Homo sapiens: one gene and its partner. The protein of the gene in region 2 purifies or fractionates together with the protein of the main gene of each other region. This does not show direct contact. Each region holds a gene or a part of one and is shown on either strand. Other genes may lie near its edges.

Region 1 (3,652 bases), on a different chromosome or scaffold from region 2:
TCAAAAGTAAGAATTGTTCTCTGAACTTTTTGCTTTTATTTTCTACAAATCAGTTCACAGCGGTGGAGTTAATTGCATATCATTCCATCCTTCGGGTAACTATCTCATCACAGCTTCTTCAGATGGTACCCTTAAGATTCTGGACCTCTTAGAAGGAAGGCTCATCTATACACTTCAAGGACATACGGTATTAACACTCAGATTCTTGCTTTTTATATATAAAAATATAAAATAATATATATTTTAAATTTCTGATCCATTTTTATGTCCCTTTATTGTTTTTCCAGACATAGCACACATTGCTGCTATCATAAAATTTTTTTACTTCCAAGGCTGTTTTTATCCTCTGGAAGCAACTCTTAGAAATATTATTTGTGGCTGGGCGTGGTGGCTCACGCCTGTAATCCCAACACTTTGGGAGGCTGAGGCGGGCAGATCACCTGAGGTCAGGAGATCGAGACCATCTTGGCCAACATGATGAAACCCCATTTCTACTAAAATACAAAAAATTAGCCAGGTGTGGTGGCACATGCCTGTAATCCAAGCTACTTGGTTGGGAGGCTAAGGCAGGGGCATCACTTGAACCCAGGAGGGGGAGGCTGCAGTGAGCTGAGATTGCACCACTGCACTCCAGCCCGGCAACAGAGCAAGACTGTCAAAAAAAAAAAATGGAAGAAAAAAAGAAATATTATTTGTTGTAATTCTTATCAAAATCAATGTGTATCTTTCAATGGCCATTAAATGAATCTTCTCCTGCTGTCTTTATCAGTATGTTGTATAGATTGACTGGGTAAATGGTGATGGGTAAGTAGATTCCATACTTCAGATCCTTCCTTCATGTGGAGGCTGTCCCGCTTAGCCCTGACACCCAGCCTCTCACACCTCTCCCTCACTCCTTCTGCTAATTTGTTGGTGGGTTTAGGAGAAATTGGGTAAGCACAGCCTAACACCTTCTACTCTCCTGCCTTTGGGAGTAGCCATTCTTCACTGTTTTTCTCTGATATTCCTTGTGGGGAGACCTGCCCTTGTCTAGTGTTGCCTGTGACTCATTCTGGGCATCCGTTCTAGAAAGCCTATTTGTGTTACACATAAAAGCCACATTCTCTTTTTACAAGCATTTATTAGAAAGAAAGGTGATATTTCGATTCTTATGTGCTGTATTCCTTTGTCTTATTTCTCAATTGGTTTAGAACCAAGTAGGTAAGAGGGGTGCCTTTTATTGAGCCTGTTCAAAGATCCCTCCCTGGCATATAGATCAATTTTTTAAATTTATTATTTCTTTATTTTTGAGATGGATTCTTAGTCTGTCACCCAGGCTGGAGTGCAGTGGCACAATCTCGGCTCACTGTAACCTCTGCCTCCTGGGTTCAAGTGATTCTCCTACCTCAGCCTTCTGTACAGGCGCACCACCACGCCCAGCTAATTTTTTGTTTGTTTGTTTGTTTAGAAGAGACAAGGTTTCACCATGTTGGCCAGGCTTGTTTTGAACTCCTGACCTCAGGTAATCTGCCTGCCTTGGCCTCCCAAAGTGCTGGGATTACAAGTGTAAGCCACTGTGCCCAGCCTAGATAAATTTTTTTGAGTATATAAACTAGTCTTTTCTTCCAGACAATATTCAAACTTCTCTGAATTTTTTAGAATGCATCCTCTTTTTTTTTTTGAGGTACTTCCTTTTAACAAGTATAAGCTGTTTATATCTAGAAATAGAATGAGCCTTGTGGTCTAGAAGAGAAGAGTTTCTTTTTCACAGGTTCTGCCTGGCTTCCTGCTTTGCGTTATCATTTATTCTGCAGTGGTGTTAGGGTAAAGCAGAAATAAATACTAACCAGCTTAAATATATGCATATCCATGGATTTAGGCTGAATAAACATAACAAATAAAAGTGGCCAAGGATTGAAATATCCATGAAAAAAGTACAAAATAATAGGGAAAAAAGATAAACACAGTCTTTCAGTAGGAAAACACTACATGAAGATGGAATTTTAGTCTGGAAGTAAAGGTGTTTATGAAGCTATTAATATTATAAACTAAATCTGTGGGATAGTCTACTTGGGAAAATACAAGATGTTTTTCCCTAAAACTTTTCTTGTACAGATTAAGGACATATTAAAAACATATGGTATATATTAATATTTTTGAGATAAGAAATACTTACTCTTATCTGGACTGAAAAATTGACCTAGAGGCTATCCATCTTGTGACTGTGCCAAGCACAGTCTTGTCCAACTCCGCAGTAACTGCTCAATTTCAGGTTTTCATTACCTCTCACCTAGATAATTACAGGAACTTCCTAACTGGCCTCCAACCAAGCATCTTACTCCAATTCATCTTTCTCAGAATTGTGATACTGATTTTAATCATTCACAGCTCTCCTCCTATCTGTGTTCTGCTCTTTAAACTTTTAGTGGTTTATGGTTGCCTACATGAAGGGGGAACTCAGTGAAGCCCATTGGTCAGGAAATGGACTTCATGTAAATAGCCTCATTCCCATTACCTACATATTTATCATTCAGTTTCTGCTAGTGATTGGTTGAATACAGAGTCCAAAGCCAGAAAATCTTAACAGAAATTCTTATGAACTTACATATGTAAAAGCTTTTCTTGAAAGGAGAAAAAAGTTATTTTTTTAATTAATTTTTAGTATTTTTTTAGTATCATTTATTTGTGTTTTAATATGATTGGGTTGATTCTTTGATTATCTTCACTCTGCCAGCATTAGTTGCTAGCAACTGATGTGTTTTATTAGACTTATTGCATGAGTAGTATGCATAAATTAGGATGAGAAATTGATATCCATAGTCTTCTTGGCCATGAGAAAGCATTACCAAGTACTTTTTTTCTTTATTTCCCTTTATTTCTCAGGGACCTGTCTTTACTGTTTCATTTTCAAAAGGTGGAGAGCTATTTGCATCAGGAGGTGCAGACACACAGGTTTGTAAATCTTTCAGCTCCTCTTTGATTTGGTTAAGGTAAAGGAATCCTTGACCTCAGCTAAGAGTTTTACAACCAGCTAGTTTGTGTATGTTAAGATGTTTGTCAATGAGTTTATATTTTAATTAGTACCATGAAGTCTGCTATCTCATAGCTGAAACAGAGCCAGTTCTAAATTTTGGGAACTCAAATAGTTATTTTCTTTTGCTCATTTTACACTTAACTATACATGTAACTGACACTATATGTCCACTTTCAGTAATTATATAGCACTTTTGCTTGAATCATTGCCTTATCTTAAGCTTCTTGAGGATGGTAAATATAAATCATTTATATACCAAATCTGCATTTATCTGAAATGACCAAAAGTCATTCATGGCCAGATTTATTGAATAAAGTGAATGACCAGTCCAAAACATGGTTTTGGGCTTTGACCAAAAAAAAAGAGGATTTTAAGATAACCAGATATTTTCTTAATATGAATTTTAAACCAGACATGAAGGCAATTCAAAATGTTAAATCTCTCCCTCAACCACACCTTAAAAAAAGATATTGAGAAATAGTAACATAGTTGAAATATATATCTACCCTTCCTACTTTGGGAGACAATTCTGTATATTGTGGGTTTTAAAATCAGCTCTATTGCTTGTACATGCAAGTCAATAACTGCCAACATCATTGACTTTTTTCATAGGTCTTATTATGGAGGACTAACTTTGAT
Region 2 (3,025 bases):
GGAGCGGACCTGAAGAAACAAGATTCATCTTCCTGGTCTCACACACGGCAAAGCCCAAGATGCCACAGCTGAGGAAGGTCCTGTCAGCGCCGCCTCCCCCAGGCTCGGCTCTGGTGTCCTGGGCAGCCCCCACACCCTCACTCAGCCAGGCCCCCAGCAGTCTCTCTCCGTTTGGAGTGAGATGTGGGAGGGGCATCTCATTGAGAAGCGCGAGAAGGGAGAAGGGCCCTCAAGTCCCCACGTGGCCTTGGCAAGTCACTCTGCTTGCTAAACGATGTTGACCTCGCCTGGAAAATGGGAGGACCCACTCCTAGGAGAGTATGGGTCTCAAGGCATTTTTACAAGCACAGCCTGAGTGGGGATGGGGCTCCAGCCTCAGTCCCCTAGTCCATCACGCTCCCAAATCCCTCTCCCGACAGCTCTCAGGGCTGAAGGCCTGTGTTGCCTCCTCCCCCTCTCATCAGCACAGCTGAGGGTCTCACCCTCCTCACATCCCTTCAAAACATAAGCCAAAACAAAAAACCGCCAAGGGTGCTGCTTATAACAAGGTTTTAATAAAATAAAAAGTTCAAGTGCTTCCAAGCCCCCAACATACCCCTTTCTGGTGTGGGGGAGGGGAGGGAGCTCCCCACCCCAATAGCACCAGGATAGCACCATGAGAAAGATGAGGTCACACCCGGCCTCCCTGAGACCCACGGGGGGTGGTGAGGGGAACATGCCTCCAGACACCCCCCAACCTTCCCCCCACCGCAGACAGCTGCAGAGCTGAGAGCGAACCCAGTCCCCTCGTGAGGGCAGTCTCTGGGGAGTGCCACCCCCTACATCAGTTCCACCTCCTCCTGAGGCCTGTACTTCTGGGGAGATGCCGTGGGGTGGCCCCTGCCCCTTATGGCTTTGCTCCCTGGGGAGGAAGGGGCTGAGGGGGGCGGATGGCTCCTGCAGTCCTGAGGCTGGGGCAGGGGTGGGGAGGGCAGCAAATGGCCGGGGCTCCCTGTGGGAGTGGGGGTGGCTCAGGGGTCAGCAGTCACAAAGGGTCAGGGCTCAGATCCCTGGGGGTGTCCAAACCAACCCCATTCCAGGGTCAGAGCTATGCTGGAGTCAAGGGTCAGCTCCCTCCCAGAGGTCCAAGGGCTCCTTCTGGAGGTCCTGGGTAGCAGCTAGGAGAGAGACCCTCTCTCCCTGCTGGGCCTCCCCGTCCGGCCTGTCACAGCTCTTCACCGCCGACATCCAGGTCGATGGAGCCGTGGCTGACCACCAGCCGTAGGCGCTTGGGTGGGGAGAAGGGGGCGAAGGCGAGGGCCTGCTTCGGGATCAGGATGGGGCCTGGGGTCCCAGCAGGGGCTGGGGTAGCTGGTGGGGCTGGGGCCAGGCGACGAAGGTCCACACGCACCACGTAAGGCAGCCCATAGCGCCGGGCCCAGTGCCAGTCCTGCTGAGGGGCCCAGCGGGCGTGGGGGGGCTGGCCCAGGGCCACCAGGGCCTCTCCTCGCAGGCGGCAGTGGGGGCCACAGCCTCCCCATCGGTGCAGGGAGACGCGGGCAGCGTGGTGGGTGGAGAGCACTGGGGCCCTCCGGGGCCGGGGGCGTCGGCGCTTCCGGGGCCGCACTCGGGGCTGGGGCTGAGGCAGCCACTGGAGCCAGAGGGGTGAGGTGTCTGGGCGGGCGCTGCAGGCTGGCAGGCGCAGGGGCTGGCAGGCGGCTGTGAAGGCCCAGGTGGCAGGGAGAGGAGGAACAAAGGAGAGGTGAAGTCAGTGCAAGCTGGGCCGGTCCTCCTCTGGACAAGGAGGCAGCCCTGCCCTGCGCTCCCCAGAGGAATGATGCGGCCGAACTGCTCAACAGCGAGGCCTGCCAGCGACTGAGGGTGGGAGGGAGGGTTCCAGGCTAGGCAGAGAGCTCAGAAGAAAGGAGACAGATGACCAGGAGCAGACAGGGGAGGGGCTGCTGGGATGGCAGGGAGGGGTGCTCACCGCAGAATGGGTCCCGGCGCAGCGGGGATGGGTGCACGCAGGCCCGAGGGCCCAGCAGGCCCTGTCGGCTGCCACTGTCCAGGCCTTGCTGCAGCCGCCGCTTGGTCTCACGCAGCTGGTACTTGTCCAGGGGCCGTGGTGGCAACGCGGGCTCCCTAGGCCTGGTTCGGAAAGCTCCTTCACCTTTCCTGGGAGACCGGGTGAAGGGGAGATGAGGCCGGGTGGAAGGGAGATGAGAGGCTGGGGTTGGACACACTCAGGGATGGGTCCCGAGGGTGCGTTTCTGGGCTCAAGAAGCCCAGACGACCCGAACCCAGCCGCCTCTCGCCCGGTCCCACCTCTCACAGGTGTGGCATTCACAGTGCTCATTCTTCTCGCCGAAGAAGCCCTCGCCGTAGAAGCATGTCACCTCGTCCCCAGGCTCAATGTCCCGGAGCACCTTCACGCAGGCTGCGTTCCCATCTGCAGGCACAAACTGAGGGCCAAGCCCACTCAGCGCCCTGGCCCAGGGCACAGGGGAGGGCTCACCCACTCCCCACACCTGGCCGGGCACCCTGGCCCGGAGCGTCCTCTCCTGGAATGGGGCAACAGCTGAGCCCCTAAAAGTGGCATTCCGAGGCGGCTGCCTTGCCGAGGGCCTGTCCTTTGCCTGTAGCCCCTGGACAATCCACCCACTGGCTGGTTTCCACCCCTCCCTGCAGGACGATGATCTAACCTGACCTTCTGGCAGCGTGCAGTGCCAGCAGTGGTGACCACTCCCTCCAGCCTCTGTGGCCCCGTGCCAAGCCCCACCTCCTCTGCCACACCCAAGCCCATCCCCTCCTGAGCTGCCTGCCCCCCGCCAGACTGTGCCTTGGCAGCTGAGGTCCGAGCTCTGCCTGCTGCGGGCCGCCCCCGCTTCTCTGAGGCCTGCCTCACTCCACAGCCCAATCTGTGTGTGCTCTGGCCCTGCCTTTGGGATCATTCACCCAGGAGCTGCCCCACAGGCTCCTCCTAAGCCCCACACAGCTGCGCCTTCCTCCCTGTTCCCCGTCTAGGAGGGGGCATGACCACTGTCCA

What was found.
Region 1: the proteins of KMT5C (region 2) and POC1B purify together in Homo sapiens (affinity purification with mass spectrometry; one large-scale study listed by BioGRID and IntAct). This does not show direct contact.

Annotation. Positions count from the first base shown.
Region 1 is NC_000012.12:89,466,896-89,470,547, reverse strand, and holds part of POC1B (POC1 centriolar protein homolog B), read left to right. Parts: intron 1-53; coding exon 54-187; intron 188-2,862; coding exon 2,863-2,931; intron 2,932-3,625; coding exon 3,626-3,652. Other genes in the region: POC1B-DUSP6 readthrough, read left to right, coding at 54-187, 2,863-2,931, 3,626-3,652.
Region 2 is NC_000019.10:55,345,629-55,348,653, reverse strand, and holds the end of KMT5C (histone-lysine N-methyltransferase KMT5C), read right to left. Parts: intron 2,442-3,025; coding exon 2,305-2,441; intron 2,155-2,304; coding exon 1,967-2,154; intron 1,699-1,966; coding exon 1,205-1,698; 3' UTR 533-1,204; downstream 1-532. UniProt on the Homo sapiens protein: Histone methyltransferase that specifically methylates monomethylated 'Lys-20' (H4K20me1) and dimethylated 'Lys-20' (H4K20me2) of histone H4 to produce respectively dimethylated 'Lys-20' (H4K20me2) and trimethylated 'Lys-20' (H4K20me3) and thus regulates transcription and maintenance of genome integrity.